Linked DNA regions of Homo sapiens. The protein of the gene in region 1 interacts with the protein of each later gene in a pairwise test. Each region holds a gene or a part of one and is shown in the gene's direction. Other genes may lie near its edges. The genes, in order: NECAB1 and PAX4.

Region 1 (4,436 bases):
TTTTTCTCTTTTCAGCTTCGTGGTGGATCCTGAACAACTAGATGTTCCTAGACATTTTCTTTATGGTTCCAAGTGCAAAACAGGTGTTCTTATCTAAAACGTCAATTAGAAAATTATCTGCGGTTGTTAATCTACTGTATATTTTTGTTTGGTATATTTACTAAGTGCACTCTTTCAAAACTTATTCTATAACTTTATCAATTCATGTGAATTTTAGCTCAATTTTCAAAGTTCACTAATATTCTCAATATTTAATGCTAAATGCTTTGCTACATTGTAACTCACCTAAAACCTTTTAGTGACAAAATCCTAATATGTGGAAAAAAGCATATGCATAAAGGAATAATATTGTGAAAATGAATCTGTTATGATAAAGAAAAAATAAAGTGGAAACTTTTAGAGTATTACTTCATAGGGCAGATTTTGTAAACTGTCGTATACTGTAAAGGGTTAAATCAGCGTTTTGTGATTTTTAAGTAACTGTGAGTGAAGTTTATTCTTCAACAATGTCTACTCCATCCCCAACCCAACTCACAGCCCTATGACTACTATCTTTGCATTAGTTAAAAAGTTAGTATATAGGCATCAAACAACCTTGGCTGTAACCTATAGAATCTCTATCCACGTATCAGGTTATAGACTGGTTTTTCAAAAGTGAACAATCCTGTGATAAGTTGGAGTACCATTTAGTAATACAGCAACATTGTGTCATTTATTAGCATCATAATTCTTTGTTATGTAAGTTAAATATATCAAGAAAGAAGAGACTGTTTGGAAAAATGTGGTTCAAGTTTTATGCTATATAGTTTTGGTATGCGATACAGACAGCTAACTTTTCTTATGAAAAATACATATTTGCATGTAAACAATGATTTCAAAATACTTGAAAAATAAAATTTTAACCCAAATGAATAACTAAGAAATATAAAACAAGCACAAAATCTTAGGGAAGTCATAAAATAGTAGTGAAAGTATTAGACAGAAGACATCTGTTTTCGAATTTCAACACTAGAATGACTAAAACTATCTACCTATAGAACTATCTGTAGATAGTATACTATCTACACTCTGCTCAACAAGCTCAGAAATTAAATATTTTTAATAATAAAAATCTGTTCTGGTTATAAACCTTGCTAATGAAAATACAATACATATAAAAATGTATAGCCATGTTATTTTCTAGTATAAATTCCTTTGAAACTATAAGTCTTTGAGGAAAATTATAAGGTAAAATTTTCCTGTTTTTCCCCCTTTGAAAAACTCAGGAAAAAAGGAAGATTGAACTAATAAAATTTTATTTCTTAAATATAAATTTGACCTAAAATATTTTCTCAAACTAATTCATGAAACAGCAACTTTTACCAATACCTTTGTATACTCTCAGTTCTCATTCAGTATAAATAAAATTTTAAAATCCTTTCATAGTTCTATTAGAAATAAGTAGTAAATTTTGATATATTGTACATACACACGTGTGTGTGTGTGTGTGTGTGTGTGTGTGTGTGTGTGTGTGTATTTGTGTGCCTCTGGTCAACTCTAAGGATGACAGACACTGTGTAACAACACCTGGGTCAACTCTTTTAATTTATATACAAAGCAAAGAACAACATTAATGGAGATGCACAATGATTATTCAAACAAGCTATATATATGTACAAAGGCAAACAGACACATAACAGTCTCTGCAGACTGATTGTATATAGTAAGAAAAGATCAAAAGACTTTAAAACCTAAATGACTTTTGACATACAAACTCTTCTTGAGAATGTTTGTTGTAAATGGTTTCAAAAATACAAATTATAGCCAATCAAAACATTGCTTTGGTTGGTGCATTTAAGTATCCAACTCAAAAAGCATATCAAATATTTTGGGTACTAGGCAGTTTCCAAAGTAGCATGGTAGTATTACTTGTTAAAAGGGTTCTGTTTTCATTAACAGTACTAAGTGGAAGGGATCTGCAGATTCCAAACTGGAATAAGCTCTATCATATTCTGAAACAAGAATTAGAATGACTTGAGAACGGGCAAATAACAAAGCAAACCAATATAATTATATGGTCATTCTGACCCCAGCTCTTATACAAATTATACATGTATTTTTGTGTATGTTTGTGAGAGTTGTATGTATGTGAATGTGTGTGAGTGTGTATTCACATACACATATATACTGGAACCTATAGTAGAAAAGGAAACTAGTAGGGCCAAAAAAAAAAAGAAAAAGAAAAAGAAAAAAGAAAAAAAAAGAAAAAACTGGGACCTAAGTATAAATATCTCATCCTAAAGTAAACAATAAGTTTATAGTTAACGAAGATTTTTTTCTATTTAAAACCCCATTTTCCTAAAGAACAAAGTAGTAAAATAAAAAAAAATTTAAAAAATTAAAAAATAAAAAAAAGAGGTCACTAAAAGACCAAGATGGGAAACGTAACATGGAATACAAGCTTGAATCTGGGAAACAAGCTCAAAAAACAGTGAAAAAAAAAGTACTGGTTTAGGAGTTCAAAATTCAGTGAAACAAACTTTTTGCCAATAGACCTAGGGATCTAAGAAATAGAATTAGGGAGAGTTTACACTTACTTACCTATATATCAGCAGATTTTTCTGGAAGAAACCCTTTTTTTTTTTTTTTTTAAACAGTAACATCCAGAGTGACAAATTGCAGGAGATTTAATGTATAAAATTTCTAGGAATTAAAAGCTTAAACCCAAAAATTGTTCATCCATATATAAGAAATTATCGAATTAAAACTTAATGTATGTCAATTATTTTCAAATGTCTAAATTCCTTTGGAAATAAAAATATCAGTTTTACTTTGAAATTGCTCAACTTCTGCTATTCATATGGTCTGATTAGTGACATAAGTAGCAGCCGTTTTTCAACTTCAGTTTCATTCACTACCATTGTTTCCAAATTATCAATCTCTGCTAGTAATTATGAATTTAAGACCATATTATTATCAAAAACCTAGAGACCAATCATATATCTGAAAAGAAATACCCATTAAAAATTCTGCCTCCTGTTTATTGAGAACTATGCATTGAACATTCTGAATCATTCTAAGCCTCTGGAGAGACTGTAATGATCCATTCATGAGCTGGTATGAAATCAGTGGGAAGCAGAACAACAGAAGGAACTTTAAAAGCAACAAGCAATTATGTACCATATATACACTGTAGCAAATATTTTATATTTGAGAGTCTTTACAGCTTACATTTCCATTCCATTATTACAAGTGATGAAAAACAAAAAATTGCAAGTAGTATGCAAATTATAAATATACAGTCTTCCCACTTCACTAACCAAATTCCTACTTTCCAGTGTTACTTCCCAATTTATGCAGGAAACCTCCTGCAAAGCTGAAACTGATTAGAAAATTCTTTATATTTTAAAATAGCTCTTTCTCATTTTTAGAGAAGTCAAATAGCCAACCATCAAAATTAAGAATAAATTGAATTGTCACAGTCCATTACAGTTATTGTTGCTAGATCCACCTCATTTGCAGATGTCCAAACTTAAATTCATCTGTTCTTAAAATGCTACTTAAAACTTTGGTTGTTTTCCTGTAATATAAAAGAAAAAGTTAATTTATCAATTGATTGAATACAGTTTTTACTAATTAGTTTATCAAACCAAATACTGTGAACGTACCAGGTGTTTACAGATTTAAATGCATGTTACCATAGAAACTATTAAAGTAACTAGAACTGTCAAATAACAAAACGGCTCATGTTTTTAAAATATATGTAACTCATTTTAAAATATATTAAATTGTATTCCAAACCTGTTCTTCTGTTTCTGTGGCACCTAGGTTTAAAATATGTATTAATGTGTAAATCACAAGTAAAATGAATTCTAATGTACAAGTTTGTTTTAAAAAGTGTATGTCAAGCTTTTATTTACACAATAAAATGTTATTAAAGATGGAAAGTCTACAAATGAAAAAGTGACTATAGTTTATATAGCACTGAAGTTTACATTTATTCTTACAGACCATGGATTACATATCCCAAAGATCTTTGAACCGGTGGGAAAGTTGAAACATCAAGTACATTTTTTCTTATTTAATATTTATGCATGAGAAGTATTATAAAAAATTTTAATTCCTGCTTTAATTAACTTTAAAAAGAATTGGCTAGAGATCTAAAGTTAGGGAGTTTAAGAAATATTAATATAAACTATGAACAACATAATGTTTTTTAAAAATTATAATTTGAGGAAAAAAATACTATGAATTCCAAAGAATTAGAATACCAAAAATGGAGATAGAAGGTAGTAGTGTTTATCTCCCATTCGAACTGTTCTCAGTATACCTATATTCTGAATCTCATTTCAGAAGAGTCCTAGCTGCCTTTACCTATATAAAGGTATTTACGAAAACTCTAATAGGAAGTTAAATTCCAGTCAAATGTAAGTAGAGACCACAAAGAATGGGAATCA
Region 2 (4,524 bases), on another chromosome or scaffold:
TTTTCCCTCCCCCATCACCTCTGGGTCGAAAGCCTCTGTTTGTTCAGACCCAAGAGCGCGTCATAAAGGCGGAGGGAGAGGGTAGTTTATGGGGTAAATCGCTGCCACCACCATCTGCTAGGGCTTGTCCCTGCTCCCCCTGATACCCCTATCTCCACCCTCATGCAGCTGTCTATAGGAATAGCTGGTCAGGACATAAGCCTTGAGCCCCTAGACGCAGGGGCAGATCTAGCGGGGAGGGATGAGGCAGGAATGGGGGACTAGGAGCAGGGCTACCACAGGCCTTACTGGGGACCTCCTCCCACCCAAGCATGGCTAAGTAGAGTGACCAGCAGTCCCCAGCTGCCCCGGGGATGGAATGGGCTGTAAGGACACTTGGGCAAATGCTATCCTGCCCGAGGTCCTGAAATCACCCTCTGCAGTCTCCCCTGTACCCCAAGACCAGTCTGAGGATGCTGGAGGAGGGTGGAAGAGGAAGAGAGTATGTATCAGGGTAAAGTGGAAAACTCACTTATGTGATATTTGGCCTTTGAGAGCAAGAGTTCCCAACCCTAGGATCAAGCTGAATGCACAACAACCACTTTCACCCCCAAAACCTCAAAACATTTACCAATGACATACGTCTTCCATTCTCTGATTTCTGGGACTAGTCTTATTGCCCTACACCCTGCTTACTTCCAGTCTAACTTTTGCAATGGTTTCACAGACTCTGAGGTGTGGAATGGACCCAAAGACCATCTGCCCAAGACCCTGATGACTGGCAACAAAATTTACATGCACTAGAGGCTGTGTTTCACTTTCAGCATCCCACTCCACAGGCACCACCTGCCCAGCTACTGATACCTCTGACCTCGCCAATGACCCAGATAACCTGTGGTGTCTTTTGTGGAAACAGCAGTGCCATTACTAACTTAGAGTCTAAAAGCATCAAATCCCTAACAGAATGGAGCCTGCTAACATCTAAAGATGGAAGAAGGAAAATCCTGCTGCAAGCCTCCTTATAAACACCCACATGCATCTCTGACTATCCTGAGGCTCATTTCCACCACCACTACCATTGTCAGTGTTCTGAAGTCCAGGATCCTTCCATTTCCAGGCAAGAATTCACCCTTGGTGTCACCTCAGTCAAGGAGTCAATTGGAGAATTGGTTAGGACACTCTCTGGGGACAGCTGGTGCTAGGTGACACACACTCTTCACACTCTTCTCCATTCACTCTCATTATCTCAGAGTGCTAGGAGCCAACTCAGTCAGTATTTAGGCAACAGTCTGTATACTCATTTATCTTTTATAGCAACACACACGACTCAGGAGTTGACCCCAAAGCCCATGTATGTGCATTCTGGCTGGGAAGCTGTGTTGGTGGTTCGGGAAGGCATCTTTTTGCTTCTGTGTATTCAAAGCCTTAAGAACACAACCTGAAGTTCCCCATCTTCCATGCTCAGCATGCCCTTCAGGAGTACTGGTGCTTGTGTGGGTACACTTTTGCCTGTCTGAGAATGGCTCTGTCCCTGCTTCCGGGTGGTAGGTGGACACAAAGTGGGCTCTGAGGATTCCCCATGGAAGGACACAGTGGGTCATTGGCTGTGGTTTGCCCTGCCTCAGGGCTGGTGTCAGTCAGCCCATGCACACCTCCCTCCTCCTCTCTCCTCTGCTCATGGCCTGTGACATCACTGGCTACTCCCAGAAGGCTGCCCTCTGCTCTTGAGCACGGGCTCTCTATAGCTCTGGACCCCCTGGCAGGACTGAAGCAGGAGCAGAGTGGAGGCTGTTACCAAGACCAGATCATCACCACCCCTGGAGCCTGCAGGGGTCTCAGAAGCTGAGACCTCCCACTGAAGCTCCCACCTCATTTCCTCCACACAGGTAGCTCACCTGCAGGCTCATTGTCTGCCCTGCCTCTCATGCTGTCTCCATGCCTCTGTGTGGCCAAACCCAACTTCTCTCCCACTCTGCCTTTGCAGCTACAACCCTCCTGCCCCTTCCACCCCCTTTCCTGTTTTTCCATCTTGCAAGCACCAGTTATTTTTTCAGACATGTTAATATGAATGTTGGGAATGTGTGTTGTGGCTATTGGGAATGGGGTTTCTGTTTGTGAGTTGGGGCATAATGATTTAGGTTTGGAGATTATTTAGGTTTGGATACTGAACCTGCATCCCTACTGCTCTTTTGAATTCTGGTCACTTAGGAGAACTGAGTCCCATCAAGGATTTAGGGTTTGGCTGATATTTTGAGCTCCTTCACCCTGTCTTGGCACAGCCCTTTACAGTCCCTGCTTGATTCTCCTCTCTCCATTGTTTTTGTGGCAATTACACAAACATGAAACAGGGGTGGGAGCAGAGAAAGAGAGCCCAGGATTAGGAGCCAGAAATTGTAGCTTCTGATGAGGAACTGGCTTCTAAACCTTGAATTTTACTCTCTGGACAGCCCCTGACTTGTGGCAATGCCAATCTGTGCCTCAGTTTTCTCTTTGGAAAACCTCTGCCTTCTTTCCCGACTTTTTGGAAAGATGAGAATTTGAAGGGGTCTGTGCCTCTACCTACCTAGAAACAAGTGAGTAAAAGCCAATTTAGCGACTGAACTTAATAAGTAGACTCTGGATTCCAAACTCTTTGTAATTCTTTGTTTCACTGGTGCTAGTCTCTTTTCTCCAGTTGCTCTGTAATGTGTTGGAGAGCAAAGACTTTACCCTTTTCTGTTTACTGCCTTCATCCTGAACAACCAGCAATGTGCTCATGCTTAATATCTTATTCAGCATACAACTGCAGATGAATTAACTAAGCCCAGATGGCACGCTTATTATAAGAAAGTTCTGTGCATAAGCTGTTCCTTGGGGTGATCTCCAGCACTACCAGGGTTCCAGGCATGAAAGGAGGCATCTTCAACTCCCATTGATTACTAATGAAAGTAGAAGAGGTATGGTGGCCTGTGGGACCTGTGTCCCTTGCTGCTCAGAGACTCGCTTGGGCTCATGACGGTTTCTATGTTGCTCAGCGGACAGTCTTCTCCTGCTTCTCATTCCCTTCAATATGCCTTTGATAAATGTTAGTTGAATGAATGAGTGTCTGATACCAGAAACATCGTCTCTGAAATTGAAGCTTCACTGTGAGATCTAGAACTCTTCAGAGAATGAACAGAATGAACAATCTCAGCAGGTTAGAGATGCTAAGAGATGCGTCTCCTAGGAGAAGCCGGCTCTTCAGGCGTGTTCATCTCTATGCCCAGTGTGTAGGACCAGAGCCTCAATGCCTGGTGGGTTAGAGCTGAGTCCCAGTTTCCCTAGAGCTTCCTGGAGAGTATAAAAAAACAGGAGCAAGCCTTTCTGAAGTGCAGCATTTGGGTGGCAGTTTGGAGAGCCCAACCGAGGACTGCCTAATAGTGAAGGTGGACCCCTGAACTTGAGGACCCCAGAATCTCTGGCTCGGGTGTGTCTTCCAGGGCTGAGAAGGCTTAGGAGCAGCTGGAGACAACAGCTGTCCATTTGGAAAGGGGAAAGCTTGAGCATTTGAAAGCATTATCCCTTTCTACCTCCCCAAACTTTTCTAATGAATGTGTAGGAAAGGAGAACCCTCTCAATCCTCCCAGCCCCTTATCAGGACTTCAAGAAAGATCCAGTCCTCAGCCAACCTGCAGTGTTTTAGTTTTTATCACACAAAGGTTTAAATAAAAGGAATTAGAATTTTCTGATTTTAGCCAACCCACTGGCAAATTTTAGGAACCTGACCCTCTATCACAAAACACTACCTCCCAGGACCATTTCAAGCAAAAGACCTCACCCAAATAACCCCCCATTATTGCAGAGCCAGCCCCCAAGCTGGAAAAGGAGCTCCTAGAAGGAACTTCCCTTCCCAGCCTTCCCAGCTGGAGTCTCATCCTTCTGAGGAGGGTCAGCCTGGAGCATGCATCAGGACGGTGAGGAGCCTGGGGGAAGTGGGAAGACAGGGAGGACAACAGAGACAGGGGAAGACCTCAGGGCTTTGCTTCCATCAACTGTTTCATCTGCTATTGGCCAATGTTCTGGGGAAGCTTTTTCCAGTCCCTCCCTTCCTGCCCTGTCCTGCTTCCCTTAGATCAGGAGAGTTGGCGGGTATGGGCAAGGAACAAAGACTCACCCGTGAGCCAGCTCTCAAAGAAAGCAGCTTGCGTTGACAGCCTGGGGGCAGCAAGGATGCAGTCTCCCAGGAGAGGATGCACTCGGTGGTGGGAAGCCAGGCTGGAGGGGCCTGAGTGACCCTCTCCACAGGCGGGCAGGGCAGTGGGAGAGGTGGTGTGTGGATACCTCTGTCTCACGCCCAGGGATCAGCAGCATGAACCAGCTTGGGGGGCTCTTTGTGAATGGCCGGCCCCTGCCTCTGGATACCCGGCAGCAGATTGTGCGGCTAGCAGTCAGTGGAATGCGGCCCTGTGACATCTCACGGATCCTTAAGGTAATGGGCCAGCACCTTTACCCAGTGATGGGGACAGGAAGCAGGGAGAAAGGGCTCCTCTGAAGGCAAGAGCCTGGGGCTGTTGCAGGCTCTGAGGG

The links.
Region 2: the proteins of NECAB1 (region 1) and PAX4 interact in a two-hybrid assay, tested with the Homo sapiens proteins (one large-scale study listed by BioGRID).

The regions. Positions count from the first base shown.
Region 1 is NC_000008.11:90,955,472-90,959,907, forward strand, and holds the end of NECAB1 (N-terminal EF-hand calcium-binding protein 1), read left to right. Parts: intron 1-15; coding exon 16-41; coding exon of another isoform or gene 42-97; 3' UTR 98-3,535; coding exon of another isoform or gene 3,536-3,559; 3' UTR 3,560-3,922; downstream 3,923-4,436. Other genes in the region: uncharacterized protein C8orf88, read right to left, coding at 3,536-3,559.
Region 2 is NC_000007.14:127,615,303-127,619,826, reverse strand, and holds the start of PAX4 (paired box protein Pax-4), read left to right. Parts: upstream 1-1,684; 5' UTR 1,685-1,865; intron 1,866-2,426; 5' UTR 2,427-2,552; intron 2,553-3,799; 5' UTR 3,800-3,898; coding exon 3,899-3,911; intron 3,912-4,295; coding exon 4,296-4,426; intron 4,427-4,524.